Linked DNA regions of Homo sapiens: regions 2, 3 and 4 are each linked to region 1. The links come from fine-mapping of genetic effects on gene expression. A gene starts in region 1. Each other region holds a variant in brackets. All regions are shown on one strand. Distances are from middle to middle. Region 1 holds the start of MPND (MPN domain containing). Region 2 overlaps YJU2 (YJU2 splicing factor homolog). Region 3 overlaps YJU2 (YJU2 splicing factor homolog). Region 4 overlaps SH3GL1 (SH3 domain containing GRB2 like 1, endophilin A2).

Region 1 (2,740 bases):
GCGGACCACGAGGTCAGGAGTTCAAGACCAGCCTGGCCAATATAGTGAAACCCCGTCTCTACTAAAACTGCAAAAAAAAAAAATTAGCCAGGCGTGGTGGCGCATACCTGTAGTCCCAGCTACTCGGGAGGCTGAGGCAGAAAATCGCTTGAACCGGGAGGCAGAGGTTGCAGTGAGCCGAGATCGAGCAACTGCATTCCAGCCTGGGCAAAAAAGCGAGACTCTGTCTCAAAAAAAAAAAAAAAAAAAAAGTACTAATACCTACCACAGATAAAGTGCTTACCATGTGGCAGGCGCCTGCTGAGGGCTTTATTCATTTAACCATCCCCTAATTTTCCCATGGTGGGGAAATATTCCATTTCACGGCTGGGAAACCACAGGAAGGCCGGGGTGTTGCCCATCTGACCCTGCGCGGGTGGTGGCTCCTCTCTGAGCCTCAGCTTCTCCTTTGTGGGATGGGGTGTTTGGTAATCTACGTCCTCCCCACCAGAAGGACCCATCTGTGCCTCAGATTCCTCTCTCCACATGGGGCTTGTCCCGTAAAAAGAGCTCCGGGCCTCAGTGTCCCCTCCACGGGAGCTCCTCCTGCAGGAAAGGAGCTCTGGGCCTCAGTTTCCCCTCCCCACACTGGGGCTTGTCCTAAAGCAAGGGAGCTCTCCAGGCCTCAGTCTCCCTTCCTCACACCGGGGCTCTTCCTGCCGCCAAGGGAGCTCCGGGCCTCAGTCTCCCCTCTTCATGTCGGGGCTCTTCCTGCAGCCAAGAGAGCTCCGAGCCTCAGTTTCCCCTCCTCACACTGGAGCTCTTCCTGCAGTCAACGGAGCCCCGGGCCTCAGTTTCCCCTCGCCACACCGGGGCTCGTCTCTCAGCAAGGGAGCTCCGGGCCTCAGTGTCCCCTCCCTACACTGAAGCTTGTCCTGCAGCAAGGGAACTCCAGGCCTCAGTTTCCCCTTCCTGCCCGAGCCGCGATGGGACGAGGGAGGCGGGGTGCTCACCAGGTAGTAGATGGACAGCACCCCGGCGCCAGGCTCCAGCAGCGCGTCTTTGAGGAGCACCCGCAGTGTGACCGCGCGCCTGGTGAGCGCGCCCCCGGGCCCGCCGCAGCCCCCCGCCCCGGCCCCGCCGCCGCCGCCTCCTCCGCTGACGCTACTGCCGCCGCCGCCACTGCGTCCACCGCCCGCTCCCGCATTCGGCCGCTCAGGGTCCTCGGCCTCCGCTTCGTCCTCGTCCTCCTCCGGCGCCTCCTCGCCCGCACCGCCCGCCGGGGACAGCGGCTCCGGAGCTGCGGACAGCGAGAGGCTGCAGGGAGGCCGCTCGCCCCACGGCTCTGCAGCCCCGCGCCCCTGCAGCCCCGCGCCCCGCGCCTCCGCCCCGCTGGGCCCGCCGTACCTGCCATGGCCGCGCCTCCCCGCGCCCGGAGCTCTAGACTCCGGCTTCCCGGCACGTCACGCGGCCCCGCCCCGGGGAGGGGAGGGGCGCCCCAACCATTGGCCGTCGCCGGGGTCGGGGGAAGGGCTCGGCGCGCTGGGGTGGGCGGAGAAACTGAGGCCTCGGGGATGCCCACGCGGGAGAGAGATCGGGAACTCAGCCCTCTGGGAACATTCGGGAAACTGAGGCGTGACGGGGTGTTGACCGGGAGCTCATTGGTGCGAATGGGGAAACTGAGGCCTCGCTGTCCAGGGATAGAGGTTGCAAGGTGGAAGCCTGGGGCGGGTGCGCGAGTGGCTCAGCCTGCTGCAAGGAGAGGAGAAGGTGAGACCTGCGGTCACCGCACTTGAGGAACTCAGAGGCCTCGGCCTTTAGGACCAGGGGAGAAACTCAGGTCCAGGGGAACAATGCGGACTCCAATAGGGAACAGCCTCGCGCAGACACAGGTGGAGCCAAAGAGCCCAAGCCGGCCTCAGTCGCTAAAGAATTAACTCCCACCCTCCCGGGCGGCCCTCGACTGATTCCATGATTGGACCGTTGCGGAGCCCGCCAGCCAATGATAAGAGTCCCATTTATTTCACCCTCAACCAATCGATAGCAAGCTACTGGATTCCCGCACCAACCAATCCGTGTCAACTATCTGATTACACCAACTCGGATTTGACCAATGGGCAGACGTCCATGTAAACCAATCAGTAGAAACCCTTAGTTATGAGCGCAAACCATCAGAGGCAGGGACTGGACTCACCAGCCAATCAGCTCCGGGTATAAGGCCAGCCGAGTCCGGCCCTCCATACCCTTGGGCGGAGCAGGAGGCAGGGCCGGGCTCGTTGCGCGCCTGATCAGTGCAGCCCCGGCCTTTGTCCCCTACCCTGTTTCTGCAACTACATCCCCGACCCTGTCCTGGGACCTTCGTCCCGGAGCCCAGGCTCTGGGATTTCCCTCAGTCCCTGGCAGGGTTGAAAGTCCGGGATGGGGACTTCCTAAAGCTCCGGGACGCCGTGGGATGGGCTCAAGTGCGGGTGGCTTTGCCCAGACCGCAGTCGGGAAGTGGGAACTGGACAGTAGGGGTGCGGGGGAGGCTCTCCAGGGTGCTCGGGAATGTTCTCAGGAAGAAGACTTGACATAGAGCAAGAGCTGGGTACATGTGAACTATTGTTGTCCAGCCCAGGCACCCTTTAGGGGCCCCACCCTGACTGTCCAGCCAACAACGGGCATCCCCAAGGCCTGCAGACTCAGCATAGCCCAAACCGGCCTCAGTTTATTTCCCCAACTCCTTACGCACTTTCTCTTTGGCTTTTTTTCCGTCCCCTGC
Region 2 (2,740 bases), 84 kb after region 1:
TGCCAAGCACTCGCTTGGTGAACTCCTACTCGACCTTCAATACCCAATGCAAGACGCTCTTCCTCTGAGAAGCTCATCCTCATAATTCAAGCTCACGCATCCTGGCTTCTCTCTCACCCAGATGGATGTTGTCCTGGGTATTGGTCTCCTTGTCCCTCTCCCTCCCCACACAGTGAGCTCCGTGAGGGCAGAGCACCCATTGGGACTTCCTTAACCCAGTGGTTACCACTTCCTCTATTTAAACATAAAACAGATTAAAGGGGCCAGATGCAGTGGCTCATGCCTGTCATCCCAGCTCTTTGGGACGCTGAGACGGGAGGATCGCTTGAGCCAGGGGTTAGAGACCAGCCTGGGCAACATAGCGAGACCCCGTCTCTAAAAAAATTAAAAATGTTAGCTAGGACTACAGGCACATACCACCATGTCCAGCTAATTTCTGTAGTTTTAGTAGAGACGGGGTTTCACCATCTTGGCCAGGCTGGTCTCGAACTCCTGACCTCAGGTGATACGCCCACTTCAGCCTCCCAAAGTGCTGGGATTACGGGCGTGAGCCACCGACCGCACCTAGTCTACTTTTTAATTTTCATTTTTTTTAGGAGGAATCTTGCTCTGTCGCCCAGGCTGGAGTTCAGTGGCACCATCTCGGCTCACTATAACCTCTGCCTCCCGGGTTCAGGCAATTCTCCTGTCTCAGCCTCTGGAGCAGCTGGAATTACAGGCATCTGCCACCACGCCCAGCTAATTTGTTTTTGTATTTTTAGTACAGATGGGGTTTCGCCATGTTGGCCAGGCTGGTCTCGAACTGCTGACCTCAGGTGATCCGCCCGCCTCAGCCTCCCACAGTGCAGGATGGCAGGCAGGAGACCCTGCGCCCGGCCCCTTCTACTTTTTTACATTAACTTTTCCGTGTCCACCGAGGGCAGTGGTGTGGTTAAGTGCCTGGATGCCGGAACCAGCCTGTCTGGATGGAGCCTGGAGGGTAACCTTGGTGGGGCTCATGCCTGGACCTCCCTGGACCTCAGTCCCCTCCATGATGAAGATCACACTGACCCCCAGGGCTGTGTGGGTAGTGAGGTTACAGCCACGCCCGGCACCCGGAAGGTGCAGGATGAACGCAGGCTCCCAACACTGTTCTGCACGGTATCGCTGCTCTGCACACCCATCAGGCACTGACGTGGAACCTACCAGAACCTACCTGCTGGAAGCCCTGGGGACACAGGAGAGGCCACCACGTCCCTGTCCTTACAGCTCAGATTCTAAAGGAGGGAGGGGAGATGAGGCACCAGGAAAGGAGGGGATCAGCACGCGGGCTCAGAGGTGGTCGGCGTCAAAGGCATTCACCAGCCAACCACAGGGGCTCACACGTGTCATCCAGCACTTCAGGAGACTAAGGTGGGAGGATCGCTTGAGGCCAGGAGTTCAAAACCAGCCTGTCCAACATAGCGAGGTCCTGTCTCTACAGAAATAAAAACAATTAGCTGGGCATGGTGATGTGTCCCTGTGGTCCCAGCTACCCAGAAGGCTGAGGCAGGAGGAACGCTTGAGCCCGGGAGATGGAGGCTACAGTGAGCTATGACTGCACTACTGCACTCCAGCCTGGGCGGCAGAGCAAAACCC[C/T]GTCTCAAAGAAAAAGAAAAGCGTCGTCCGGGCGCGGTGGCTCACGCCTGCAATCCCAGCACTTTGGGAGGCCGAGGCGGGCGGATCACGAGGTCAGGAGATCGAGACCATCCTGGCTAACACGGTGAAACCCCATCTCTACTAAAAATTACAAAAAATTAGCCGGGCTTGGTGGCGGATGCCTCTAATCCCAGCTACTCGGGAGGCTGAGGCAGAATGGCATGAACCCGGGAGGCGGAGCTTGCAGTGAGCGAGATGGCGCCACTGCCCTCCAGCCTGGGCAGCAGAGGGAGACTCCGTCTCAAAAAAAAAAAAAAAAAAAAAAAAAAAAAGAAAAGTGTTCACCCAGGAGGCCTGAGGCTGTGTCCTCAGAAGGCGGCTGGTGAGGGCGTCCCTTGGTGGGTGTCCGGGAGCCTGTGCTGGGGGCCTCCCACCCTCATGGATGGGACGGGCTCTGGGGCTTCAGCTGTTCCTGCAAACACCATGGTTTATGCGTGACCCCTGCTTTCCTCTGGAGTCTGGAATCCCGGCATGGGTGAGGCAGCGGGGGCTGTGGGACCAGGCCCCATAGGAACCCCACGCTGGGTCTCTAGGAGCTTCCCTAGTGATGGCGCCTTTCTCGAGTCCTCCAGGCTGGTGCTAGGGGATGAGGCGCGTCCTGCGAAGCTCCACCAGGAGAGGATCTGGAAGGCCTGGCCCCCGACACACCACACATGCCTTTCCCCTTTGCTGAATCTGCTGTGTCCTCTCGCTGTGACAAACCGCAGCCATGCGGGCGACCACGTGCTAAGTCACCGTGCCCGGCAGTGGCCTGGGACCCCCTCGAGAGACGCCACAAGGGAGAAAGTGAGATGGGCGGTGGGAAAGGGGTCCTTGCAAAGGCGACACTCCAGAGAGCGGGGAAAGGGTCTGGGGCAGAGGCAGCGCCTGCCGGGGCAGAGGCTGCGAGGTGGGGCTGGGTTGGGCCGGCCCTGACTCACGCGGTCTCCTGCTCGTCCTCCTCCTGCTGCTGCCTCCGCCGCTCCTCCTCCGACAGGCGGTGCTGCCTCAGCATAGCCTCGAAGTCCACGTGCGCCTGCCGCTGGTTCAGGTCTTTCAGCTCCTGGAGGTTCTCCAGCACCTC
Region 3 (2,740 bases), 88 kb after region 1:
GGAGGCTGAGGCAGGAGAATCACTTGAACCCAGGAGGCAGAGGTTGACTGAGCTCAGATCGTGCCAATGCATTCCAGCTTGGGTGACAGAGCGAGACTCTATCTCAAAAATAATAATATTAAGGAAAAATTGTAAAAGACAACCTGAGCACCTACTGTACACCGGGCCCTGGGCTAAGAGGTTTCCATATGCCATCTCATTTAATCCTCACAACCCCCATTTTACAGAAACGGAAACTGAGGCTGAGGGAGGCGAGTCTGGTGGCCACGGGTCCCTGAGAAGTGGCTTTGGAGCCAGGCAGGTTGGGAGTGAATCCTGCCTGGCTGCTTCCCAGTGCTGTGACCTTGTTGTATTTACCCTTTGGAAAAATGGCAATTCTGACAGTTTAAAAGTATGTCCACAAACTCTCTGATGCTCCTCCATTTAAGGGGTGGAGGTGACTCCCCTCCCCTTGAGCAGGGGCTGGACAAGCTACTTGCTCTAATGGAATATGACAGAAATAATGGCACGTAACTTCTGAGACTAGGATGTAAAAGCACAGGCCTTCCTCCTTGCTCTCACTCTTGGGTCACATGCTCTGGGGTACGCAGCTGCCATGTTGTGAGGTTGCTCAAGCAGCTCCCCACACAGCGAGGAACTGAGGCTGACAGCCAACAGCCAGTAGAGGGAGCCAGTTTGCGAGTGGCTCCTCCAGCCCCAGTCCAGCCTTCAGATGATACTGCCCTGGCCAACACCTTGACTGCAACCTCATGGGAGCCCCCAAGCCACAACCATCCAGCTCAGCTGCTTCTGGATGCCTGACTCTCAAAAACTGTGGGATAATAAATGTTTGTTGTTTTCAGTCACTAAGTTTTGGGATAACCTGTTATGTAGCAATAGCTGACTAACACCAGGGTAAGAGCCCCTTGCTGTCAGTGTGGAGGTAACTAAATTCACACACAGACAGCAGTGCGACAGGCCCAGGCACACACCAAACCCTTGCCAAGGCTCATTTCCCTCCCTGTTGCTCTGCATGGCCATGGAAAATGTTGTATCTGGTCTGATGTGGCTTGCTCAGAAAACTCACATTTGGCAGGGGTGGGTGGGTCCAGGAATAGATA[A/G]GAATGGATGGGAAATATGGAAGCAGGAGGGGACAGCAGGGAACACAGTCATTTAAAAATCTGTTTTATATATATATGTGTATGTATATATATGTATATGTGTGTGTACATATATATATATATATATATATATATTTTTTTTTTTTTGCGACAGTCTTGCTGTCTTCCAGGCTGGAGTGCAGTGATGTGATCATAGCTAACTGCAGCCTCAACTTCCTGGGCTCAAGTGATCCTCCCGCCTCAGCCTCCCTAGTAGGTGGGACCACAGGTGCACACCAGTACACCTGCCTAATTTTTGTTGTTGTTGTTGAGACAGAGTTTTACTCTTGTTGCCCAGGCTGAAGTGCAATGGCGCGATCTTGGCTCACTGCAACCTCCGCCTCCTGGGTTCAAGCAATTCTCCTGCCTCAGCCTCCTGAGTAGCTTGGATTATAGGCGCGTGCCACCACGCCTGGTTAATTTTTGTATTTTTAGTAGAGACAGGGTTTCGCCGTGTTGGCCAAGCTGGTCTTGAACTCCTGACCTCAGGTGATCCGCCTGCCTCAGCCTCCCAAAGCACTTGGCTGATTTTTTTTTTTTTTTTTTTTTTGACACAGAATCTTGCTCTGTCACCCAGGCTGGAGTGCAGTGGCATGATCTCAGCTCACTGCAGCCTCTGCCTCCTGAGTTCAAGCAATTCTCTGCCTCAGCCTCCCGAGTAGCTGGGATTACAGGTGTCTGCCACCATGCCCGGCTAATTTTTTGTATTTTTAGTAGAGACGGGGTTTCACCCTCTTGGCCAGGCTGGTCTTGAACTCCTGACCTTGTGATCCACCTGCCTTGGCCTCCCAAAGTGCTGCGATTACAGGTGTGAGCCACCACGCCTGGCAAGCACCTGGCTAATTTTTTAATGTTTTATAGAGACAGAGTCTCACTATGTTGCCCAGGCTGGTCTTTGACTCCTAGACTCAAGTGATCCTCCTGTCTCAACCCCTAAAGTAGCTGGGACTACAGGTTCAAGCCACCATGCATGGCTCCTTTTAATATTTCTGAGAAAATACAAAATTGTCCTATTGGAAGTGAACATAATTTCTTTTATTTATTTATTTTTTTTGAGACAGAGTCTTGCTTTGCTGCCCAGGCTGGAGTGCAGTGGTTTGATCTCGGCTCACTGCAACCTCTGCCTCCCGGGTTCATGCAATTCTCCTGCCTCAGCCTCCCAAGTAGCTGAGATTACAGGCATGCGCCACCATGCTTGACTAATTTTTTTTTTTTTTTTTTGGAGACAGAATCTCACTCTGTCACCCAGGCTGGAGTGCAGTGGCGCCATCTCGGCTTCCTGCAACATCTGCCTCCCCGGTTCAAGCGATTCTCCTGCCTCAGCCTCCTGAGTAGCTGTAATTCCAGAAGCGTGCCACCATGCCTGGCTAATTTTTGTATTTTTAGTAGAGACGGGGTTTCACCATGTTGGTCAGGCTGGTCTCAAACTCCTGACCTCGTGACCCACCCACTTCGGCCTCCAAAAGTGCTGGGATTACAGGTGTGAGCCACTGCGCCCAGTGTTAAGTTTTAAAATTTTTAGTAGGAACAGGGTTTCGCCACATTGGCCAGGCTGGTCTAGGACTCCTGACCTCAAGTGATCCTCCCGCCTCAGCCTCCCA
Region 4 (2,500 bases), 21 kb before region 1:
CAGGCCCTGCCAGGAGCAGACCCAAGCGGGCAGCGGAAGGGACACAGCTCATCACCCACCCCGGGAGCCTTGGCCTCAACCACCCCCCGCTGCACATCACTGCTGCGCCTCCTCCCTGGCACCCCCCAGATGAGGGGTCATAGCCACGTTCCAAGAGGAGCAGCCCTTGGAAGGAGGAGGTTTTGCCCCCTGAGGAGCTTGGTCACCTCTCCACCCGCTGCCAGCTCCTTTGAGGCTAGCAGGAGCAGGGAAGGGACCCTCTGGGGATTCCACTGTGCTTTGTGTGGCCTAGGCTGTCCACAGGCACAGGAAGCAAGGGTGGGGAGGAGATGTGGGGGCTGCAGTCTGCCAGGGCAGAGGAGTGCAGGCCTCACAGCCCACACCCACCTGGCCATCCTATCCCAGCCTCGCGGGCTAAGCTGACCATGCTCAACACGGTGTCCAAGATCCGGGGCCAGGTGAAGAACCCCGGCTACCCGCAGTCGGAGGGGCTTCTGGGCGAGTGCATGATCCGCCACGGGAAGGAGCTGGGCGGCGAGTCCAACTTTGGTGAGTGGTGCTCTCTGGAAGCCACGCCCACCGTCCCTGGAGGCCACACCTCAACACAGGCAGGGCAGGTCCAGGCCCTGCATGTGCTGAGTGCCGGGGACGTACAGTGGCCCCCACAGCTTTCCAGCTGCAGAGGTGCAGGAGACTGCACAGACCAACCCATCCAGCACTGGCCAGCAGCTGATAGGGCCCCTTCCTGTAGCTCCAGACCTTCCCCAACTCAAGCCAGCTGCTTCCCCAGGGCCTGGACCCCCCAGCATCTGTCCTTCCACCTGTTAAGGGCAAACCTAGGCCCTTTTAGGAGCATTGGAGGGTCTGGTTTAACGTCCAGCATCGATTCGGATTTTAGGATCCTTTGTTTTGCCCTGAGTTCCAATTTCCGGGCCCTGGGCTTAGAGTGTTGGGGGGCTGTTAGAAGTTGGGATGGGGCCAAGTGTGGTGGCTCATGCCTGTAATCCCAACACTTTGGGAGGCCAAGGCAGGTGGATCACCTGAGATCGGGAATTCGAGACCAGCAAGACCAATATGGAGAAACCCCACCCCGCTTCTACTAAAAAAAAAAAAATATATATATATATATATACACACACACACACACACACACACACACACACAATTAGCCGGGTGTGGTAGTGCATGCCTGTAACCCCAGCTACTCGGGAGGCTGAGGCAGGAGAATCACTTGAACCCAGGAGGTGGAGGTTGCAGTGAGCCGAGACTATGAAAAAACAAAACAAAACAAAACAAAACAAAAACCGGGTGCGGTGGCTCACGC[C/G]TGTAATCCCAACACTTTGGGAGGCCGAGGCGGGCGGATCACAAGGTCAGGAGTTCGAGACCGGTGTGGTCTATATGGTGAAACCCCGTCTCTATTAAAAATACAAAAATTAGCTGGATGTGGTGGCAGGCCCCTGTAATCCCCCTTACTCAGGAGGCTGAGACAGGAGAATTGCTTGAACCTGGGAGGCAGAGGTTGCAGTGAGCTGAGATCATGCCACTGCACTGCAGCCTGGGCAACAGCGAGACTTCATCTCAAAGAAGTTGGAAAGGATCCAGGTGTGGGGGTGAACGCCTGTGGTCCCGGCTACTTGGGAGGCTGAGGTGCCAGCATGGCTTGAGCCCAGTTTGAGGCCTGCAGTGAGCTGGTACAGCGCCACTGCGTTCCAGCCTGTGAAACGCTATTTCAAAAACAAAGGCTGAGGAGTGTCTCAGTCTAGTGGTCCCAGGCCCGGTATGATGGCTTCCCCCACCACTTCTCCACAGGTGACGCATTGCTGGATGCCGGCGAGTCCATGAAGCGCCTGGCAGAGGTGAAGGACTCCCTGGACATCGAGGTCAAGCAGAACTTCATTGACCCCCTCCAGAACCTGTGCGAGAAAGACCTGAAGGAGATCCAGGTGCTGCTCCTGCGCCAGCCTGGGGCCTGTCCCTTCCCCCTGCCGGATGGGGCAGCCCCATTCCTGCCACCCTCACCTCCAGCCTCGGCACTGCCCTCTGGGTCTCAGGCAGGCAGGATCCCCAGTGGTGCAGGGACAGTGGGTCAAAGCCATGCGTGGGGCGGCCCTCTGGCCGCTACTGGTGTGACCCATGTCCCCCACGTCTCCAGCACCACCTGAAGAAACTGGAGGGCCGCCGCCTGGACTTTGACTACAAGAAGAAGCGGCAGGGCAAGATCCCCGATGAGGAGCTACGCCAGGCGCTGGAGAAGTTCGAGGAGTCCAAGGAGGTGGCAGAAACCAGCATGCACAACCTCCTGGAGACTGACGTGAGTAGCTCGGGGTGTCACATCCTGAGAAGACCTATGCCCTTGGGAGGCCGGGGTGGTGCCTCAAGGGAGCTGGAGGACAGATCGGCACCTACCTGGCCGCTGCAGCAGGGGAGGTGGAGGGTATGGGCCCCAGTCCCCTGTCCCCTCTCAGCCCCCTTGCCTCCTGTGGCTTCACCTCGGGAGTCA

The links. PIP is the estimated chance that this variant, and not a neighbour inherited with it, causes the effect. A credible set is the group of variants that fine-mapping cannot tell apart.
Region 2: its variant is the best candidate, but not a certain one, in a credible set for the expression of MPND in liver (GTEx, PIP 0.50).
Region 3: its variant is the best candidate, but not a certain one, in a credible set for the expression of MPND in whole blood (INTERVAL, PIP 0.50).
Region 4: its variant is the best candidate, but not a certain one, in a credible set for the expression of MPND in thyroid (GTEx, PIP 0.83).

What each region holds. Positions count from the first base shown.
Region 1 is chr19:4,342,247-4,344,986 of GRCh38, reverse strand. It overlaps MPND (MPN domain containing), which reads right to left and starts at 1,425. Exons shown (of 13, transcript NM_001300862.2): 1 at 1,387-1,425; 2 at 993-1,279. The coding sequence starts at 1,393. RefSeq lists a silencer at 1,284-1,573 and enhancers at 1,642-2,373, 2,394-2,513.
Region 2 is chr19:4,258,281-4,261,020 of GRCh38, reverse strand. It overlaps YJU2 (YJU2 splicing factor homolog), which reads right to left. Exons shown (of 8, transcript NM_018074.6): 5 at 2,598-2,740. Among named protein-coding and RNA genes, the nearest start is that of YJU2, 13 kb to the right of the region's middle. The variant C/T (reference allele first, on the strand shown) is at 1,618.
Region 3 is chr19:4,254,677-4,257,416 of GRCh38, reverse strand. The region is part of intron 4 of YJU2 (YJU2 splicing factor homolog); the gene reads right to left. Among named protein-coding and RNA genes, the nearest start is that of YJU2, 9.0 kb to the right of the region's middle. The variant A/G (reference allele first, on the strand shown) is at 1,101.
Region 4 is chr19:4,363,531-4,366,030 of GRCh38, reverse strand. It overlaps SH3GL1 (SH3 domain containing GRB2 like 1, endophilin A2), which reads left to right. Exons shown (of 10, transcript NM_003025.4): 4 at 406-549; 5 at 1,810-1,943; 6 at 2,153-2,311. Among named protein-coding and RNA genes, the nearest start is that of MPND, 21 kb to the right of the region's middle. RefSeq lists an enhancer at 1-109. The variant C/G (reference allele first, on the strand shown) is at 1,325.